3 separate regions of the Homo sapiens genome follow, and regions 2 and 3 are each reported to be linked to region 1. The links are microRNA targets in miRTarBase. Many come from high-throughput screens and were not tested one by one. Region 1 holds a microRNA gene; each other region holds the end of a gene's coding sequence.
The links. Region 1 holds the annotated microRNA hsa-miR-200c-3p (UAAUACUGCCGGGUAAUGAUGGA, at 2,084-2,106, shown strand). A microRNA usually pairs through its seed, bases 2 to 8, with sites in the 3' UTR of a target mRNA and lowers its output. Matches are read on the target gene's strand: a 7mer-m8 pairs with bases 2 to 8, a 7mer-A1 pairs with bases 2 to 7 and ends in A, and an 8mer does both.

Region 2: miRTarBase lists STX16 as a target of hsa-miR-200c-3p. Seed matches in the 3' UTR shown: 8mer at 3,412-3,419 and 7mer-A1 at 520-526.
Region 3: miRTarBase lists RASSF2 as a target of hsa-miR-200c-3p. The part of its 3' UTR that is shown has no 7-base or 8-base seed match.

What each region holds. Positions count from the first base shown.
Region 1 is chr12:6,961,659-6,965,806 of GRCh38, forward strand. It overlaps MIR200C (microRNA 200c), which reads left to right and starts at 2,041; the gene lies at 2,041-2,108. PHB2 (prohibitin 2) reads right to left here. Exons shown (of 10, transcript NM_001144831.2): 10 at 3,669-4,054. The coding sequence ends at 4,027. MIR200CHG (MIR200C and MIR141 host gene) reads left to right here and starts at 1,587. Exons shown (of 2, transcript NR_135032.1): 1 at 1,587-1,690; 2 at 2,543-2,789. It overlaps MIR141 (microRNA 141), which reads left to right and starts at 2,439; the gene lies at 2,439-2,533. It also overlaps LOC105369634. RefSeq lists enhancers at 1-699, 1-440, 249-458, 700-1,501, 3,284-3,333.
Region 2 is chr20:58,676,039-58,680,038 of GRCh38, reverse strand. STX16 (syntaxin 16) reads right to left here. Exons shown (of 9, transcript NM_001001433.3): 9 at 513-3,852. The coding sequence ends at 3,748. All of the region lies in intron 8 of STX16-NPEPL1 (STX16-NPEPL1 readthrough (NMD candidate)), which reads right to left. Among named protein-coding and RNA genes, the nearest start is that of NPEPL1, 15 kb to the left of the region's middle. RefSeq lists enhancers at 3,162-3,686, 3,687-4,000.
Region 3 is chr20:4,780,783-4,784,782 of GRCh38, reverse strand. It overlaps RASSF2 (Ras association domain family member 2), which reads left to right. Exons shown (of 12, transcript NM_014737.3): 12 at 441-4,000. The coding sequence ends at 510. Among named protein-coding and RNA genes, the nearest start is that of RASSF2, 41 kb to the left of the region's middle.

The sequences.
Region 1 (4,148 bases):
ATTTTACCGTGGCGGAAACTGAGGGACAGAAAAACTAAGTAACTTGGTCACTTGCCCAAGGTCACAGGGCTATGGAACAGTGAGGCTGGGATTCGAACCCAGGCTGTCTGACCCCAGAGCCCACACTCCTTACCCTGGAGTTGCAGCTGGGGCCACCCTCAGGGGGGCCCTGATCACACTCCCCTGATGCTGAGTTCCAGATCTGAACTAAGAAGAGTAGTTAACAGCCGGAAGCGCAGACCTGAGGCCAGCCCGGCTGCGTCCCCTCTGGCGGGAACAGGGACAGGCTCCTCAGAGCACCCGGGCACGCCCAGCTCCTCCCCTCATCCAGGCCGCTGCTGCCCTTATCCTCTTGGGCAGAGTTTGAAGAGCTGGCTGACGTGAAGAGTGCTTTGTTTTTTGTCCCCTCTTCCTTCCCCCATGTCAGGAGTGGGGTTTCTTCTTTATTTGAAACACTGGTGTCCTGGGGAGTAAAGCCGGTGGGAGTCATCCCTCAGGAAGTGCTGGCGCCCACTCCTGGAAAGGCTGAGACAGCACAGGTCCCAAAGCCCAGAGGCTGGGCGTGCATTACTCAGCAAATCCTTACAGAGCCCCCGGCGTCACAGGCATTCACAGTCCCCCGACCTCCTGGAACTTAGGAGGCTGGTCAGGGAGACAGATTCACAAACCGATCACAAGCATCAAATAATTGCAGGCGGGTATTAAGAAGGAAGCAAACAAAGCCTGGGAGAGAGAACAGCGAGGGATTGAGCAACCCAATAGCTCCCTGGGGCTGTGGCCCTCCAGGGCACGGGTGGGGCAATCACCTGTCGGGCCCAGGTCCCCTCTCCCAGCAACGCCCTTTCTATACAAGCCGCAGCTGCACAAAGGCAAGTCCCACCTCCTCTAACCGCCCTTGGGCTACCTGCCCTTGGGGTGGGACTTGGACTCCACTGAGGGCTGTGCTGTGAGGTGGGTCCGGGAGCAGCTCGGTCCGGAGAGTGGAGCGCGATCGTTCCCTCTGCAGGCCTCAATCGAGGGGCAAGGCTGATGCTCCGGGCCAGCTGGGGTCTCTGGGTAGCGGTGGGTAACTTCACACTAGCGACACCTTGCTGGGACCCGCCTGCCCTTCACAGGCCTGGCGGGGCCTTCTCCCTCCCCTTTCCCTCAGGGGATCCCAGCACAGGCTGGGCACTGCGGGGCGGCACAGCCCAACTCCTGCCCAGCTGACCCCTCGCTGACCTCAGGGATCTCTCTGGCCTGCAGCTCCGCTGTGGGCAGGGTCTGAGGCCACAGAGGAATGGGCTAGTCCTGGGGGCAGCATCTGCTGTGGGGAGGGGACCCAAGGACAGCCCCCGCTTTTTGTACCTCTGGAGACAGGGGTGAGACTAGGCAGGTTGGAGAAAAGAGGCCCCTGGGAGAGGGTGGGAGGCCTAGAGGAGTGGCCAAGCCTTAGAGGAGGTGCCCGTGGCTGGCGCTGGGAGGGAAGGGGTTAAGGCAGTGGGGGGGCAGCCTATGGCAGGAGGACACACCTGTGCGCAGGGTGGCAGGCGGGGCCCAGGTAAGGAGCCTGCGCTGGCTGCCCGGCAGGCGGAGAAGGAAGGAGGAAGAGCGGAGGCCAGGGCGGGCTCTAGGCCGTGGAATCTGGGGCCTTAAAGCCCCTTCGTCTCCCCAGCACCCACTCTCTGGGGGCAGGTGGGCCCGGTGACAGGTAAAGGCCACCAGGGGAGAGGTCCTGGGCTGAGCTTGGGACTGCAGAGGGGGGATGAGGGTGGGTAAATCGGTGTGTGTCGCGGGTCGGGAAAGGCTGCCGGGGGTAGGGGAAGGTGGCTCAGAGGCGGCGGGCCGACGGTCGAGGGGCTTCGGAGGGCCTGCTTGGACTGCAACCTGGGCCTCGTGATCAGCGACCCAGGGTGTGGCTGGTGGCGGGCAGCAGGGCTCACCAGGAAGTGTCCCCAGGGACTCGGGTGGTGGGGGGATGGGAGCCAGGGATCTGCAGCTTTTCCGCAGGGATCCTGGGCCTGAAGCTGCCTGACCCAAGGTGGGCGGGCTGGGCGGGGGCCCTCGTCTTACCCAGCAGTGTTTGGGTGCGGTTGGGAGTCTCTAATACTGCCGGGTAATGATGGAGGCCCCTGTCCCTGTGTCAGCAACATCCATCGCCTCAGGTCCCCAGCCCTTAGCTGGCTGCAGCCCCCTCCCCACTTCCCACGCACCCCGGAAGCCCCTCGTCTTGAGCTGAGAGCGTTGCACAAGGGGTGGTTCTTGTTGGCTGGCTGCCACTAAGGGACACAATGGGCCCCAGCCCCTCCTCCCACCCAGTGCGATTTGTCACCTGGTGGATCCAGAACCCACAGTCGACCTTGAGCTTGGGGTTGGCTCGCCCCCTCTCAAGAGACCTCACCTGGCCTGTGGCCAGGGTCCCCTGTAGCAACTGGTGAGCGCGCACCGTAGTTCTCTGTCGGCCGGCCCTGGGTCCATCTTCCAGTACAGTGTTGGATGGTCTAATTGTGAAGCTCCTAACACTGTCTGGTAAAGATGGCTCCCGGGTGGGTTCTCTCGGCAGTAACCTTCAGGGAGCCCTGAAGACCATGGAGGACTACTGACCAACAACCTCTGACCTTCACCCCTCTGGATGGGGGACGAATCACTAGGCAAAGGGGAACAATGGGAAGGAGACAAAATGGCTGCCTTTACAGCTGCAGCAAGATGTGGAAACACTGGTTCCCTAGGCACCTCCATTGTCTTCCCGCCTTGGGAGCATGAAATAAATAAAGTGTGAAGGGGAACATGAGGAAGACTGATCCAAGTCACTTGACCTGTCTTTTGTCTAGTTGTTTATCTCATCTTAGCCTCCCAGCAACTCAGGATTGGGGCTGCGACGTCTGCTTTGTCTTTCATGATACTCAACCCCAAGCAGAGAAAAATATCTTAAAAATCGAAGCAGATTAACCCAGTCCCTCTGTTCAGATCCACCTGCTGCCCTATCTGCATTTGGCAGTTCCTGGACATACTTTGCACCTATGTTTTGTCTGAGTTCCACATCTTCCTTGTCTCCCCGCAGGGATGGGAAATGGGCAGTAGTGGGAGATTCAGGTATAAACGGTGGCTCTGTTTCTCTGGTGCCTGAGATTCGGGAAGGCCTGTCTTGGGAAGATAAGTGTCAGCTTATCTGTGGACTGAACAGACAGGCACCTGTTCTGTTGGCCCCGGAACTGCGGGCATGAAAAGCCCACCTCCCCAGGGGAGGCCTGTTAGCTAGCAGCTCCTCACGCCTGGTGACTGAGAAATGGAGTCTGGGGGGCCTACAGCAGGCCACGCGATCCACTGGGCTTCTGGGCACAGAAGTGCCTCAACAGGCACAGGCAGGCTCCCCACAGCCACAAGGAACCCTGCTGCCAAGGAAGCAGCTCCTGTTGGGGTCATCAGATTTTTAATCTGGCTCAGCAAAGCCATGGCTGTCCAGCCTTAAAAAAATGGGTGATGTGGGAGAAATGGAGGGTGTGTGAAGAGCACAGCTGGGCCTCGAGAACTCAGGGCCAGCCTTCCCAGCTTGGGTCCTGTTTCGGAGCCCAGGCCTTGCTTCCCCTTAGCCGCCCCAGCCAGATTCTTTTGCGCCCCCTGCTGGCACACACAAAGACAGACCCAGGAGCGCACATGTGAACGTGCGCATGCTTGCTGCCAGTTACCCAGTTCATGAACACGTGAAGCCTTGACTTCAGGTTAAGTAATAAAAATTTATTGAGAATTCCTGGGTTGGTGTTTATCTCCTCCCAGCCTTGAGGGAGGGAACAACACTGTAGGAAATCACTGAGAAATCACGCACTGTCCCCAACAGCCCCAGTTAACACAGGGAGGAGGAAAGTAATTCCCCAGAAAAGGGGCTAGTCTTCAGTCTTCCTTAATCCAAGAGGGGTTCAGGGAACCGGTGTGGGGGACCATCGCATGATACTGGGGCGGGGTAGGGCTGTGCTGGACCCCTGGCTGGCTCCTCAAAAACTGGAGAAGCAGATCCACTTCCTCTGGGGGTGGAGTTCTTGGTGACTAGGCTCATTTCTTACCCTTGATGAGGCTGTCACTGTAGGAAAAAAAAGATAGATAATGACATTATTAGGGGACATAAATGTGAGAGGCAGGACACTCTAGGCCATTCCCTCTACGACCCTCCTACC
Region 2 (4,000 bases), not on the chromosome of region 1:
GTCCACATCTCCCACCAGCAAAACAAATGCATCAAAGTCAAGTTTCAGGACAAAGGTCCTCCTCGGAGGACCCCAGGACAGGCACAATCAAGGGGAAACATAGTCTTGGCTTTGAGTTAAACTGGCAGACACTTGTCTCTCAAGTTTTTGGTGTAACAGAGTAGGAAACAAAATCATTTAGAAAGTCAAGTCTCTTACAGCCTGTGTGTAAGAATTGCTTCTCAACAAGGCACATCACAGTTTTATTTGGAGATTTCCAAATGTTTCTTGGTATGTATATAAAGCATATATTTTCATAAGAAAAATACTTATCTGCCTTTTAGGCAGTTGTTCTTTTTGTATATCAGATAGTAAATAGATTGTCCCTTTGAAAGCATCCATTAGATAGATCTACTTTCGGACACTGAGGCAAAGGCCTCAGGCACAAAACAGAGTCAGGGGCCCAGAGGATCACAAAACTGGCCAAGCCCTCCCCTAACACAAATGCACTGGAAGAAAACATGAACCCATTGTTAAAATTAATACTAGGATTGCAGGATGTTCTTTAATCTGCGTGATTGCTTTATTGTACAAAAAGTTTCCAGTAACAGTAAATTGGTTTTAAAAAAGGACAAAAAAGTCATTTTGGATAGAAGTGCTTCACTAATTGCTTTATTTAAGCATACAAGAAAAAAAGTTTTATCTGACCAATTACGTTGGAAGGGTTTTATTACCTTTAAGAAGCCATTAGCTAGGATAAAACACTGAAAGCACTTGTGTCAAAACAAATAAATAATGTAAATAACGCTCTCTCAATTAGCAGAGAAAACAGTGAATCCGTTAAATCAGAGACACACATCACTTCACAAGCATGGCCCAGCCAGCACCACCACCCCCAAAACGAACAAAACAAGAGACAGCAGTTTTCAGTTACAATCTTGGGAAAGATCAGGAGCTTTGGAAAACGCGTGGTAAACATGTCTGTTTCTCCTTCTACCTCCACTCAACCTGAGCTGCACCCGGACACTTTAAAGGAGGCATGTGTCCAGAGGCTGCATCCAGGGATGCCCAGAGGGAGCCTGCCCTGCTAGGCCTCCTCTCAGAGGGCGCATCCCAGGCAGAGGAGACTGGCCTGGGTGATCGTTACCTCCACGGCCCAGTAGAGTGTGGAAAAACATGAGGTGCCCACAGACAATGGCTGCCAGCGAGTAAAGGGAAAGAAACCCTGAGGTACCATGATTCTTTTCTCTTACTTCCTCAAATGCTACTGATCTCTCCCCAAGTACAGGCTCAACAGAAAAATACAGTGGTTTGAGGACCCCAAGAAGTCAGCACACAGGCCAGGGGCCAGCTCCAGGCTGGGTCTGTCTCTCCCACCTTGGGAAACCCAGCGCTAAAACAATTTTTTTTTTTTTTTTTTGAGACGGAGCCTCGCTCTGTCACCCAGGCTGGAGTGCAGTGGTGTGATCTCGGCTCACTGCAACCTCTGCCTCCCGGGTTCAAGCTATTCTCCTGCCTCAGCCTCTTGAGTAGCTGGGATTACAGGCGTGTCCCACCCGGCTAATTTTTGTATTTTTTGTAGAGACGGGGTTTCACCATGTTGGCTAGGCTGGTCTCGAACTCCTGACCTCGTGACCGCCTTGGCCTCTCAAAGTCTGGGATTACAGGCGTGAGCCACCGAGCCCAGCCCCTCCTTAAAACAGTTTCTAATCAGATCCGTTATTTTACCCAAATGGGTTGAGGGAACAAAAACCAACCCTCATCACCCTATTTGGTGAAAATAAATATAAAAAAAGATGATCCTCTCTTAAAGGGTCACTTTCCTTCAGGGGTTTGTAAGGCTCAGCACTTTAAAAAGCTTGAACAGAAGTCCGGTATTGCCACTGTGGACTGTTTTTGAGGCAAGTTCCCTAATGTGGACAGCCCCACACCTAAGAGCAGCAGATCTAACTTGGAACGTCTCAACCATGGGTTAAAATCAGATGGGATGAAAGAACACCTGCAGTGACTCTCAACAGCTACGGAAGTCTCACATTGCAGGGCTGACTGATGAGGTGCTGGCTTCTTATTCTCCGGCCCTCTTTCCTAAGCAATGTTTGTCAGGGAATACCAGGTCCGCTTCCTGAAATGCCAGGGCCCCTCTAGGACCTTATCATTCCACAGCCACATCAGTAATAGGAAAACCACCAATGGCTACCTGGAGGTGGCACCAACTTGGAAAGGGAAGGCTGGGCAGGGGTTTGGACACTAAGCCCATGAGCTGTTTGGACAACTTCAATCTCTGGAATTGAGTTTAAATTTCTGTAAACAACTTTAAAGTCAACTCTAGAGAGACATTTTGTGTGACTGGTCCAAATAAAACAGCACATTTAATGAGGTCATATTCTTCTTAAACTTTTTAAGAGAAGCAAAAACAATGGAAAAGCCATTAAAATTTACACAAAGACCATTAAAACTCTACTAGTGTCAATTAAAACAAAGCCAATAAAACATGAACAACTTCAAAGTTACCATCACTTTCCACACTGTTCTACAGTTATAGGAATATATTCAAGCACCATATTGATAATAGGTAGGTAAACGATGAAGTCCTACTTTGGCGGTCTGACCCACGCTCACACAAACGAGGAGCTTCCTAGTCAAGATGCCCCCAGTCCTTGGCAATGTGCCTGCTTCCTGGGCATTGCTCAGTGGCAATGGAAGAGCCAATAAATCAAATCGCTGGTGGAATATTTTACTTTGAAATGGAGTGATGTTTGGTTAATAATTTGAGATCCACTAATCCTAAATGGGGTGACCCATTTAAAATGGCCTCTGTGTAAATTCACAGTTCATTAAATAGAGTCTGGTTTGAACAGGTCATTATGTAGTTAGTATATAAGTAATGGATTGAGCAAGGATGGCTGGGGATACCCATGGGGACACACTGGCTGAGTCTGGTGGCTTTCATAACACTGTCAAGCTTTCTTTTAATGTGAGATTCATTTAAATCACCAACTTAAATTTAGGTGGTTTTGCTTAGTAACCTCTTTTGGTTTACAGTAGAAAATGCAGTGCAAAAATTTTAAATGAGGAATATTCCATTTACAATTAATTTAAAACTTATGAAGCTGTTTTAACTGGCCCATCTAAATGTGTTAATTAACATCAATGATGGTTTCTTATTTTTCACACTTTGTTACTCTGATCATTAACAGTGATGGAAAAGCTAAATTAAGTTAATGGGGAACGGATTATAAATTCTTAAAGGACTTCTTAGTTTGTTTTCAACTGGAAAATATATAGAGAAAGATGAAGGGGCATTTTTGCCTCTACTCATCAATTTTTGGTACCAAATTTCTTAAAAACCAGATGGTTTAAAGAAAATTTTTCCAAAAATTATGTTAACATTCTGCTCAGACATGGCTGCTAAAAAAATAGCATATACACATATAATACTGAACAGCTTCTGCAGTGCCTGTAAACTCTCAGCTCATTTTCTCTTTCTAAAAAAAATATATATTATAACTGATCCCAGAACTCAATCTCTATTGTGCAGCAGTATCAAAGGTCCTTAAATTCTCAACAATGAAGGAAAAACAAAAACCCATTCCCCGGACCGCTTGAGCAGGACTAGGGAAGGAGGAGTCCGTGGATGCAAAGGTTCGCTGCCCCGACGCCCTCAGATTCCTCGAGGCTGCACCTCTGCGGGCAGCTGGCGGGGCGCAGGCCAAGCCCCTCACACCCGGGAGATCCACACGCGCGGCACACACGAAAACCCAATGCCACTTATCGAGACTTCACGCCAACGAGGACAACAATGAGCACAATGATGATGACAAATAATATTAAAATCACAAGCATCTTCCGATTCTTCTTTTGATACTGTTCTGCCTACAAAAAGAGGAGGGAAAAAAGGCCGTCATTTTCCCCAAAATCCCAAATCAAGTCCCACTCGTTTCCAGAATGAGGCTTCCAGATCTCTCTGCACAGTGACTGAGGTCTCTGCTACAGGCTACATGATTGTAATCCCTCCAATCAA
Region 3 (4,000 bases), not on the chromosome of region 1:
TGTAGGATCCCCAAGAGGGTCAACTGTTAGCAATTTTATATCATCTAGCCTAGGTGAGGGTTCATGAGCTGCTGTGCATATGAAGTACTATGCATAGTGTCTTGGACATAGTAAGCAAACGCACTGAATTCGTAGAATGCTTATTATTGCTGTTGTTTTTTTTTACCTTTTTTTTTTTTTTTTTTTTTTTGGCTAGATGTTCTACCCATAGTAAAATAATCTAATTTGGATTTGGCCTCTTTATTTCCTCTCATCGTGTTGTAGGAATGAACATAAGCAACAAAGTAGCTAAAGAGGGGTCAGTAATGGAAGCAAAGGAGCAGGGCACTTGACTGCACTGTTACCTGGTGTGACCTTGGTGTTACCCAGGTGGCCGGGAAGGTCCTGGGCAGGGGTGTGTTGCTGGCTGCTCTCCATCTGAGCCTGTTTCTTGTCTCCAGGTACACCGTGCTCCGGCTAATGATTCGACAGAGGCTGGAGGAGATAGCCGAGACCCCAGCAACAATCTGAGCCATGAGAACGAGGGGATCTGGGCACCCCAGGAACCGCCATTGCCCATAAGACCCCCAGGAAGCTAGGCACTTTCTTTCCATGGAAACATTTAGACACAAACCTCCCCAGCTCCGGCCAAGCCATCATTTGCTACCTGGAGCTGGATGTAGAAGTCAGCAGACAGCTCCCTATCCCTGGACCCCTGCCCTCCTTTTTTCTGCTCACAAGGACTTTTGATTTTAGTTATAAGGAGGACCCAAAATGTGTGTGTGTACATGTGTGTGCACACATGGTACGTGTCCATGTGCCTACCTGATACTTTCACATGTAATTAAATTCCAGGCAACCAGCACAAGAGCCGTGAGCTTGGCACATGTGCTGCTCGTGAGCAGGAAAATCAGAGGAGCCACTGATCTGAGTGGTATTTAGGTTGAAGGAAAGATTTCTCCTCTCAAGTGCCAGGGAGCAGCCACACGTCTGTCTGTGTTTAGAGAGGGAAGAGGGTTCTCCAGGTTCACCATTTGGGTTGTTTATATGTTGGTAGAAATTCTCCCTGTATGCCTAGAAGGATCAGTGAATGTAAGAGCCTTGGAAATTAACAAAATAACAGCCACATAACCTTGCGGCAAGTCTGATGGAAAGAAAAAGATAAACCATCCGTGGGGTAGATGCAATAAGCCCACGTATTTTTACACTGGAAACGTTGATTGTTTTAAATGACAAAGACATATGTGATGTTCTATGTGGAAACCTGTGAAGAGTGGATTCTGCCTCCATCTCTGCCTCCATGGCTACCTTTAGGAGACAGAGAAGATCCTGTGTGTTTCTCTGTACCCAGCTGACAGCCTGTCTCTATGGCGCTTCCTTGAGTGGAAGGAAATGTCTCAAGAAACAAAGATCTCGCTGGTGCGTACACAGTGCTGACCAGCTAGTGTGGCCAGGGCCTGGTGGCCTGGTGGCCAGGAAGTTTCAGGTTGAAGGGAAATGTCGAGGCTACCTGCAGATATGACAGGTGCCTTGAACGCAGCCCATCTTCATGTCATCAAAGGTCTTCCTGCACTTGAAGCTGGGGCGATGTTTGCAGTCAAGACCATTCTTTCCAACCTCTGGGTTCTTGCAAGTTGCCCTCACCTTGTGTGTGGAGATGCATTCCAAGAATGAAGCCTCATCTTGCTACTGAGTGTGGGGTTCAGGGAAGCTCTTTAGGCCACCTGGTGAAGGTGCATGGGGAGGATGGAGCTTCTCCTCAGCTCCTCTGAGCAGCCACCTATGTGATCTTTAAATCCAACCCCAATGGGAGAAAAGGGCAAGAACAGTCTGTGCCCTGGGACTCCTATCAGGAAGCTTGACAGGCAGCTGGGCATCAGTGCAGCTGATATCGTTTGAGGAGGGAGACAGATGCTTGGACCTGGGTGCCTGGCTATGGAGATTGACCAAGCAAGATCAGGAGCTCCTGATAGCAGGCGTCTTTGAGCCTAGCTGGGGTAGAGGCACTGCCCATCTCTTCTCCACCTTCTCTCCACAGAATGTTTGCAGAGCTGGGCAGTTGAGGAAAGGACAGCCCCTGGTTGGTGCCTCCAAAGGAAGGTGGACTTTTTTGGTGGAGACGTTTCTGCCCTGGGCACCCTCCTGCCCCCGATTCATACCTATGGCTTCTTGAGAAGGCTCACAGCTGTGGTCTTAACGTAGACTGCAGAAAGATGGCATGCGGCCCCTGGCATTTCGCCAAGGGTTTTATAGCAAGTCTCCTTCCTCCATAGGGACAGCAGCACCAGCCCTGTGGGGCATGGAGTGGAAGCCCAGAAGGGCTTCTGCAAGCTGCACAGAACTGGGGTAAGAAGACAAAGAGTAGCCACCGGGAGAGGCTTCCTTTGTTACAGCTGGGAAAGAACAGTTCTGTGAATGCAAACACCTCCTGAGTTTTGCAATTGAGAAAATGATTTGGAGAACTTCTCTTCTGGTAATTTTTATTTTGAATGTTCAGGGCCTTAGTTGGCCCCAGTAATTCTCCTTGGAGGACTTGGGAGAAGAATTTCCACAAAGCAAACTACTAACCACTAGCTCTTACTGGACAGCGATTTCTGGCTTATAAGAGTTCTCTTTGATTTGCACTAGCACTACGATAGTGTTAGATGGGGAAATACTGCAACATGTCCAGTTGGCCAGATCACTTTCCAAGGGAGCGATACTAAGGCAGACTCAGCTTTTTAAAGATGGGAGGTCAGGAGGTGGAAGTGAGAGGAGATCCCATCTCACACAACACACTTCCACGTAATGCAGACCACACTTTTCCATTTTGTCCTGCCCTCTTGAGAGGTCATTTCTCACGTCCTAAGAACCTGATCAGAAATTTTGGAAGGGTTCTTTGAAATAGCAGCAGTTGAAACAGAGACACTTTGCCACAGTGTGGAGCAGATTTTCTCACTGGTATCACATGGTCTTGCAGTTTTGAACTCTTCGACCGATTTGTGGGAGTTTATGTAATTGCGTGCAATGAACCTGAAATTGTGTAAAGGACAAAAGACCAGTTTATAGGGTTGGGTTTTTTTTCCAACTTGTGAAAAGCAGTTTAGCTGCATCTGTCTCCCCACCACCCCCACCCCGGGAGGGGCTTATGTTACAAGGTGATCAAGTGAAGGAAAAACCTGAGCCTATCTGGCTGGGATGGTGGAATTAAGCACAAGGTCACATTCTCTGTGATCACATGAGAGGGAAGGTGATGACTTAAATGGCAGGGGGTGGGGATTATCTTGGGGAGAGGCTGAAAAGCACAAAAGATAGTCTTCCCTGTACGTATTGGTGAAGAACGTGCACAAGGCTGGATGGACTTCAACTTGGAGTTGAGTTGAGGCAAGAGGATTTCTGGATATTAGTCACCCATCTGCAAGAAAAATGCTGAGGCCTCGGGTCAAGATTTTGATCTGAGACATGCTGATGCTTCAAGGAGAAATATTTTCACAATCCTCTCTTCCCTCACCAGAAGAGAACAGTACTCTCTCCTAGAAACCTCTAGGTAAACACATTTTATCCTAATATCGGTAGCATATAATGCCCCCCCCAAAATATCTGTTTTCCATGCAAAAAAGTCTCAACAAGAAGTCTGTGGAGTTGAGTGGTTACTTCAAAGTGTCAGGAGAGTGAAGAAATTGGCCACAGAAGAGCAAGAAGCTCTCTTAAGAAAAGGGAATTCTCTTTAAAGAAACCACCACCAACAACAAAACAACCAAAAACCATGTTTTATGTCAAAGCTCTGTAGCACAGAGAATGTGGTGTCACAGATACATCGCCGAGAGAGGTTTCTTTCTTTCTTTTTTTTTTTTTTGAGACAGAGTCTGGTTCTGTTTCCCAGGCTGGAGTGCAGTGGTGGGATCTCAGCTCACTGCAACATCCGCCTCTGGGGTTCAAGTGATTCTCCTGTCTCAGCCTCCCAAGTAGCTGGAATTACAGGGACCCGCCACCACGCCCGGCTAATTTTTTTGTGTGGTTTTAGTAGAGGTGGGGTTTCACC